Regions from separate parts of the Homo sapiens genome. Here region 2 is reported to be linked to region 1. Evidence: microRNA targets listed by miRTarBase, many of them from high-throughput screens and not tested one by one. Region 1 holds a microRNA gene; the other region holds the end of a gene's coding sequence.
The links. Region 1 holds the annotated microRNA hsa-miR-124-5p (CGUGUUCACAGCGGACCUUGAU, at 1,220-1,241, opposite strand). A microRNA usually pairs through its seed, bases 2 to 8, with sites in the 3' UTR of a target mRNA and lowers its output. Matches are read on the target gene's strand: a 7mer-m8 pairs with bases 2 to 8, a 7mer-A1 pairs with bases 2 to 7 and ends in A, and an 8mer does both.

Region 2: the mRNA of VAC14 is a reported target of hsa-miR-124-5p. Seed matches in the 3' UTR shown: 8mer at 3,387-3,394.

The regions. Positions count from the first base shown.
Region 1 is chr8:9,902,219-9,906,218 of GRCh38, forward strand. It overlaps MIR124-1 (microRNA 124-1), which reads right to left and starts at 1,254; the gene lies at 1,170-1,254. MIR124-1HG (MIR124-1 host gene) reads right to left here and starts at 1,111. Exons shown (of 3, transcript NR_024281.1): 1 at 1-1,111. LOC124902057 (a long non-coding RNA gene) reads right to left here. Exons shown (of 4, transcript XR_007061170.1): 2 at 2,941-3,144; 3 at 2,314-2,410; 4 at 1,852-1,969.
Region 2 is chr16:70,684,166-70,688,656 of GRCh38, forward strand. VAC14 (VAC14 component of PIKFYVE complex) reads right to left here. Exons shown (of 19, transcript NM_018052.5): 19 at 3,274-3,925. The coding sequence ends at 3,763. It overlaps MTSS2 (MTSS I-BAR domain containing 2), which reads right to left and starts at 1,888. Exons shown (of 15, transcript NM_138383.3): 1 at 1,558-1,888. The coding sequence starts at 1,626. RefSeq lists an enhancer at 3,416-3,922.

The sequences.
Region 1 (4,000 bases):
GGATGCAGCAGGCTTCCTGGGCAGAAGGATCCAGCTCTTGGCCTCCTTTCTCTGCTCCTCCCTCTACTGCAGGGACCTGCCCCTCCTCCATTTCCTCCACCTGGAAATTAATGAGCTTAGGTCTTGCCCCATCCGCTGCAGCTTGGTGGTTAATACAGAGCTGGAAATGGGATGAGACTGTGGCAGCGCAGTACGAGGGGGGTCTCTAGGACCAGCTGCTGCTCAGGGTCTAGTGATGGGAGGAAGGCCTGATTTGGGAAGCAGGTTCTTCAGGATGAAAAGCTTAACCCTTTCCATTCCCTGACAGCCTCTTTCAAAACAGTCTTTCCTCAGACCCCCAGTTGCACACATTCTGTTTTTCCTTCTGTTCACATTTTTAAAGGAACACATGTCTCCCTTGGGTCCATGTAGGTTATTGTGCCTCTCCCTTCCTCTGCAGCTCCTGGATCTCTGCCTGAAACTGCAATAACAGCTACAGGGAGGGCGTGAGGTGCTCCTTAGAGCCATGACCACGCTTTCAACTCCGATAGAGCTTGTGAACCCGCTGGGAGCTGGCTCCTTCTTGTCCACATAGCCCAACGACTTCCTTAAGCTTGTCAGGTGCTCTCAGCTCTACAGCAAAGTGTGACAAACAGCTCCCCCTCTCCCTTCCTACCGCCTGCCCTCCTCCCCAAACCTCAAGCAGAACACAATATATCCGCAGTCCAGGCCCTGAGGCAGTCTGCCAGTCTCTGGATGCCAAATTATTATTTTTTTAAGGGCAAACCAAAAAACTCAGCTCAGAACAAAAACACAGTCACGGAGGAAGGTGTTGACCCACATACAATGAGTCCTGAGCCCAGAGAAAAATCTGCACACACAAGCACTCCGCAATGCGCTCCCAGGCGACCCCCTCCCCACGCACACCGCATCTGTGCTGCACAGATCTGCTTCTGTCACAGAATCAGCTTCTGTTTCTCTCCCTGAGTCTGTTTGCATCTCTAAGCCCCTGTCTGTCACAGGCTGCACACCTCCCCACCCCACGGGCTCCGGTGCGGGACAGGCAGCCGGAGGGAGCTCCAGACCCCTCCCCTCGCGCCCGCGGCCGCTGCGCGGAGGTCTGCGGAGGGCGCCTGGCTCGGTCGGTCGCTCCTTCCTTGGCGGGCCCTCGCCGACCCACGGTGCTCAGCCAGCCCCATTCTTGGCATTCACCGCGTGCCTTAATTGTATGGACATTTAAATCAAGGTCCGCTGTGAACACGGAGAGAGAGGCCTTTCTCCTGAGGAAGGAAAGGAGGAAGGAAGGAAGGAAAGGTGAAAGAAAGGAAGAGGGGTGGGTAGAAGATGGAATAAGAAAACCAGGAAAAAGAAATAAAAAGCGGCGCGTGTGCGTGCGCACTGACAGCGGGGAGAGGGATGGGGGTGGGGAACGCCGGAGGAAGGGACCACAGCATCCTCCCCGCCGCAGCTCCCCCAATCACACAGACAATGAGATAACAGCGACGTCTTCCAAAGGCTCTTTGTTCTCCCCCATCCTTTCGCATCCAGGCTTTTTCCTGCAAAGCGGAGGGGGTGGAGGGATGGGGGTGTGGGTGGAAGTGGGAGACGGAGGGGTGCCTCCCCCGTGTTAATTACCCCGGCTCCCCTCGCCCCTTTCCCCGCGCCTCGCCTCCCCTGCAGCTCCAGACAATGAAAAAACAACATCGACCCCACCTCGCCCCAGCGCAGCAACCCACCCACCCATGTCGCCCTCTGCTTCGCCCAGGAAACTGAAGGGGACTAGGAGGAGGAAGAAGAGAGCGAAGGACAAGGAGAGCAGCGGGGACTCGGCAGCGGCAGCCGGGGCAGGGCGCGCGGCCGCCGCCTCTTTACCTCCATCGCTGAGTGGGGGCGCAGCCGGGCCGGGCGTGCCGCAGGGGCGAGTTGCCGCGGTCCGGGGCTGGGACCTGGGGATTCAGCCTTCCGGAACTCGCCTGCTGCAGTCCTCTCGCTCAGGTCCCAAGTGGTGGAGGGGGGAAAGGAAGAGAGACGAGAGAGAGAGAGACAGAGAGAGAGAGAGAGAGAGGAAGAAGAAGAAGAAGAAGAAAAAAAAACCATAAGAGCGAGGCCCATCTGGCCCCTCATCAGCTTTGTCAAGTCTTGCATACGCTAAAATGCTAATGACCTAGATAGCTCATGCAAAATGCAGCAGGGAGGGCGGGAGCGAGGGAGGTGGGAGGGAGGAAGAGAGAGGAGTGCAGGGGGGAGGGAGGGAGGAGAGGCGGAGGGAGGGAGAGAGGGAGAGAGCACCCCTACACTCTCCCCACCCCACCCCCAACTGTCAGCGGGCTTTACCAGGTAAAGGGTGGACGTAGATTTAAAAGGTCACTCGTGTATAATGCGGCTGGATCCCCGGGTCAAAAAAAGGGGGCGAGACAGAGGATGAGAGTCCCTAAAGCCAAAAGGACAATAAGACATCATTTTAAGCCCCCACCCCCATGCCCTCCTCCACCTCTCCACACTGTTTACACACAAATCCTGTCGCCGCCTCATGCATGTGCACGGACATGTCAATTTCTCATCAATTTCTCAGCGCTCCTATCGACAGACACCCGAATTCTCATTCCCAGCAAAACTCATCCACTGGACCCGAGGGAGGAGAAGACCCCTTCTCCTCCTCAGTGCTCTTCGGGCTGGCCCATCCCTACTCACCTCCATCTCCACTCTCTACTCCCTTAGCCCTCCAGGCAGCAGAGGGCTCCTTCTCTTTTCTAAGCCTTGAGTCCCCTGTCCCCTTTCCAACCCCCGCATCTTGAGAAGGAGACGCAGAGTAGCAGGAAAGCCAAGTCAAGTCCACCTAGGTCTCCCACAATTCAGCTACCCCTCCCAGAAAAAAAAAGAGACCCCAACAACCCCGACCCCTCTCCTACGTAGACACTGTGAAAGCAAGCCACAGGGACAAATAAAAGACAATCCGAATACCCTCAGCGTTCCGCACGCCGGGCGGACGCCCTTCCGCAGCGGCCACGCGTGTTCTGGGTTCAGCGCTCCTGCGCGTCCCTTCTCGCCGAACCCAAGGTGCTTTGTCCCGGCGGCCACACAAGGTCTTCGGCTTTTTGTTCTCCTTTTTTAAGAGACTGGCCGCAGTCCCCAGCGATTCAGCCGGCCCAACCAAAGGCAGTGGATCTACTGAAATGAAAAGGATCGAGATAATACACAGGCAGATGAATAAGGGGGGGGATGCTGGAGGTGCAGGAAGCATCCTGGGAGCGGCCGCCACGGCCAAGCCCGAACTGCTTGCTGCCTTCGCTGGGGAAGGCGCAGGAGGCGAGCCGGCGCTGGTGGTCGCTCCACCTGGCAGGAGGAAATGATAACCATGATAAGGAACGTGATGATGATGATGATGATGATGATGATGATGATGAGCATGATTTAAAAAAAATCAGTCTCCCTCTTGGTGAACCAGAGCATGCGTGCCGGAGGGACTGCACTGCTGGCGGCGGCGGCCGGGGGAAGGAGAGCGGCGCAGGAGGCAAAGGTTGAGGAGGCAGCACCCTCGGATGAATAATAACACCGCGCCGCGCAAGTTGCGGAGCCGCCTGGAAATCCAGCCCTTCGCGTGAACTCGCGTCGAGCGCGGATTGCAGGGGATGAGGAAGAAGGGGGAGGGGAGGGGAGGGTGGAGGAGGGAGGGGGAGGGGTAGAGGGGAAGGCAGAGAGGGACAGAGAGAATTGGGAGCCTTTTAATTTTTCCTTACCAAGCCCTAATCTCGTGCGCCGTCCTCTTTGGCTGAGGTCGAGCTCCTTTTTAAAAATTATTACTCCTTTAAAGGATTATTCAGGTAAAGGAAGCCGCATCTGCTGACGGTTCCGAAAACAAGAGGATTAGGAGCCCGTCCACAGATCCAGGCCCGCAGACCCCCACCCCCTCTGCACCAGCACACGTCATTCTCACTGCCCCCGGGTACCTCCCTCTCCTTCGTGCTCGGGGAGAGCTGTGCCAAGGAAAATGCGGATTTGGGGAAAGTGAGAAGTGGGAGAG
Region 2 (4,491 bases), not on the chromosome of region 1:
GGGTGGTGGGGTGCGGGAAGGCCCATCCGGAGCCAGCTCTGGGATCGGCCAGGGGAGGGTGGTCTGTGTTGCCCAGTCCCTTAACAGGATCCTGGGGCCAGGGCTGTGATGTCCACAGGACAGGTGGGGACTGCTGGGGGCCAGCGGAGGGGCCCAGATGTACAGTTGCAAGAGATGGGGGTCCCAGGGGGAGTGCACCATGAGGGGCAGGGGGTGGGGGGCATCTACAAGCCGCTAACTGGGTAGTCCCAGGCCAGGCTGGCTTCAGGCCTCTTCCGGGGGCAGAGATCTGGCAGCTGTCCCTGGGGCTGTTGTCCTGGCAGCACCGGGAGCCTCGAACTCCAACCTGCCAGCAACCCCCACCCCTCACGGGGCCTGTCCTAGCAGCACTGTACTGGGTGGTGTCACCCCCATCCCTGGCCTGGTGGGATTCTGTGTTGTGCACTTGGAGAATCTGCGCTGGGCTGTGGGGGTGGGGGCCCTTGGGAGATCCTGTGGGGTGCCTCGTTCTTTCCCCTTCTCCCAGCCCCCAAATCCTGCCCCTTCATCCTAGGCTAAGGAAAGGGGGCACGGCAGGAGGGCAGGAATACTGGTTCCTGGCCCCCACCCTATCACTGGAGCTGGGCCCTCTCTGCCTAGTCAGCGTAGGGCAGCCCTGCCAAACCCTGGCCTCATTTGGGGAGAGGAACCCACTAATTTTCCCAGGAGGAAAAATGGGGGCTGAGGTCAGGGGAAGGGTCCAATAGTCTCCTTAGTGACCTTGAGCCATTTCCAGGCCTCAGTTTCCCCACCTGGTGGGGTGAGGAATGAATGGGTGGTTGGATCCAGCCTGACCTTAAGCAATCCTGGGAGACAAGGAGGGCTCGGAGCTGAGAGCCCAGGGTGGTAATGGGGTAGGAAAAGCGCTTCCTTGGGGTTGCTCCACCGACCCCAACCTTCATCCCGCCTCCTCCCAAGGTGATGATCAAGGCCTATCCTTGGGATGCAGGGACATTCAGCCTGGAGACCTTGGAGTCCTGGAGCTTCCTGGGGCTGTGGGGGTGGGGCGGGGCTGGGGGACGCAGTCTCACGGTCGGGTGCAGAGGCCTAGGTCGGCGGGGAAGGAGTTAACGGTTCTCCGCTTTATTATTTTTTCCTGCTTTGGCGGTGACAGCATTGTCTGGGCTCCGGGGCCGTGGGGGAACATGGTGGTGGAAGGGGGCGGAGGCCGGTAAGACCCCGGACTCGTTAAAGGGCCCTAGAGTCGGTCCTGGATCCAAACCCCATTCATGGTTTGGCGGTCTGGGGCGCAGGGAGCCTGCGTGTGCACAGGCTCGGGTCAGGACCCCACGGGGCCACCGCGGGCACCGCACGGACACCCCGACACACGAGCACCCACACCCCCAGACGGGCACCCGGAGACACGGGCGCCCAGCAGACGCAGGCAGGACGCGCTCAGACAAGGACACACAGACACCGCGGCGCGCGGCCACACGAGGCTCGGCCACCCGCCGCCACGCGTCCCCGGGGGGTCCCGCACCCGTCGCCGCGCGCCCGGCCCCGCCGCGCCCCGGTTACCTTCATGTCGTTGACTATGGCCTGGAAGAGCCCGCCCAGGGCGCCGCACTCCTTCTCCGCCGTCTCCATGCTCTGGCTGGGCCGGGCCGCGGCGGCGGCTAGGCGCACGGAGCGCGGGGAGCAGCGCAAGGGAGGGGGCCAGGCCGCGCGGGCGCTCGCTCCGAGGCCGGGCCGGGCCTCCCGCCTCCAGGCTGCGCTCAGCGGCCGGCCGCGCCGCGCTCCGGGGTCGCGGGCCTCCGGCGGGCGGCGCGGGCCATGTCGCAGCGGGGCTGGCGGGCGGCGCGGGGGGCGCGGCGCGGGCAGCTCGCGGCGCAGCCTCGGCGCGGGGACTGACGGCGGCGGTAATCCGAGCCGCCGAGGATCGGGCGTCACGTGGGCGCGGCGGAGGGGGGACCGCGAGGAGGGAGGGAAGGAGGGCGGGCCGCGCGGGAGGGGGCTGTGGGAACGGCCGCGCGGGCGCAGGCCCATTCACGGCCAGAAACCAGGGCTTTGAAATCCGAGCCCGGGCGCTGCCAGACTGGTCCGGCGAGCGGGGCCGACGGGCGCGGGCGCCACCGAGGGTCGGGGGGCGGCGCTGGGCGGGGCCCGCCCTGCCCACGCAGGAGCGGGACTGGCGGTTGGGCCTCGGCCCCCGGGCAGGGGCTCCACGATATCTTCTGGCCTTTGGTCTGGGGCGGGGGGCTTCTCGCGCTTCTAAAGACAGGCAGTGGGTACAGTGGCGGGATGGGGTCGGTGCATGGGCTGGATGGGTGGCATACACCGCACACAGCAGGGCGCGGGGTATCGTGGAGCCGCCCGCCTTGGGACGTTTCATCGCAGGCACAGACCTTCCTCAAGTTCGGACCCTTCCAAGTTCCTTGGCTCCTTCTCCAAGTGGTGCCGATGCCACCCGGATGGGGTGCCCAAGGCTGGGCATTTGGGGGGCAGTGGTAGTCTCCTGGGCCTTGAACAACCTCCTTCTTCGCGGGTGGGGGCTAATGTCGGACCTGCAGAGCAGAGCTGGAGTGTCCTTGGTCTCTGCTGCCTGAGTCCACGGTGGGTGCGATGCACACACGTGCATGGGGTAGCAATGTCAATCGCAGCCTGTCCTGGAGACTCCAGGCAGGGAAACCCACCCTGGGGGGCAGCACGATGGGGGAGCGCACTCTGGGGAAGAGCAGGCACAAGCTCCTTCTCGCCTACTCCATGGGCCGGAGGGAGCCAATTACAAGCTCATTAGGAGACCAAGCCCAGGGTTCCCAAAGCCTGGGGACAGGTGGTACCACTCCCGGTGAGGAAGGGCTTTCAGCTGCAGCAGTGGTTGGGGCACCTGCCCCTCCCTGGACTGCTCTGGGCTTTTCCTCCCCTTGCCCCGAGATCTGCAAAGTGTTCTGCAGTGTGCATTGCCCTTTCATCCAGGAACTCCTGGGGCTCAGCTCCCATGTCCCCAGTGGGGAACTCCCATTGCCCCAGGGAGTCAGGATGAGAAAGGCAGATTGGGGAAGGCAGGGTTCAGGATTCCAGGGCAGGCAGTGCATGGTGCTCTCCAGGAGGGTGCAGGTTCCAGAGGTGGGGACCTAGGCTCTAGGCCCATGGCTCCACTCAGGTGAGTGCAGGGACCAGGCCCTGGGGCAGCCAGTACTCCTTGGGGCCATCATGAAACCCGATCTCCAGGACAGAGGGTGAGGCCCCCGGACAGCTGCACGTGTCAGCTGGGAAGGAGCAGGCCGGCTCGGGTTGAGGGTTTTCTGTTATTTCTTTATTGGGGTGGGGGTGGGGTGCATCATTCAGATCTTTGTGCTGGTGCCTACGTGCATACAAGTACACACACACACACACACACACAGGCATGTGTTCACGTATGTATACATATACACACAAGGCCAGAGCTCTAGTGTGCTGGAGGAGGGGCAAGCTCTTTTTCCAAGAGGGTATTAGAAAGAGGTTGATTCCAGAGGATGAGTGGTCTCTGAGGCTATAGCCCCCCACTGGGTGGGCAGCCAGCTCTGTGAGAATGCCAGGGTGCAGCTGACAGCGCTGGAGGCCTGGGGACTGGACTCTGAGAGGAGCTTGGGCAGACACAGCAGCCTCCGGCCCCAACACTGCCCTGGGTTGGCAGGCCCAGCCCTGGTCCTGACAGGCAGGTCCTTGAGCTCCTCGGGAGGGCGTGACGACCCTTAGTGTTTCATGGGACCACTCGGTGGGCCCTCCTCCGTGCCAGGCCTGTCAGAGGACAACCCTCCGGTCCAGGTGGTCCCCACGCCCGCTCCGCTGGTGCCGCACTTCCAGGTGCTTGTTCTGGACCTTCTCAAAGTGCTGCAGCAGCTCTGCGTAGTCGATGCTAGGGGAGTCAGCTTTCTGGGACTTGGGGGCTGCCTTTAGACTGTCTCTGGGAAGAGGGAGCAGAAATGCTCAGTGTCAGGGATCAGCTCACAGGGGGGTTACTGCTGGAGGGCAGTGGGGTCAGAGGCAGAGCCACAGGCTGGTGGGCTCGGCCTGTGGGCGTCTGTCTCAGGCCTGGCAACTCTTCCGTCATGGCGGGCCCCAGAGCTGGGAAGCCCCTGAGCATCCCCCTCTTCCGCAGTTGGTGGGAACAGCTAACACTGCTGCTTGGCTATTGCCCTCGGCCTGTGGGCTGGCGATGGCGCCCAGAGCAGGCATCGCATTGGGAAGCATTTCCTGTTTACGAGTGGCTCCCTTTGGGGTGAAAGCCAGGGCTAGCAGCCAGCCAGGAAGCCAGCTGGGGCCTGGAACAGGGTCTGGGGAGAAGGGGGAGGTGGCAGCTTGGCCCTTTCTCTGAGAGGCAGGGCTAGGACTGGGGAAAATGGGAATTGCTGAAGAGCCTCTGCCGGGCCCTCCACTTGGCAGGACATTTGTTTTTGAGTGTTGGGGCCCCAAGGCCTGCAGTCACTCACTGTCCCTGGGAGGAGGAATGCCGGTCTCACCACTGGACAT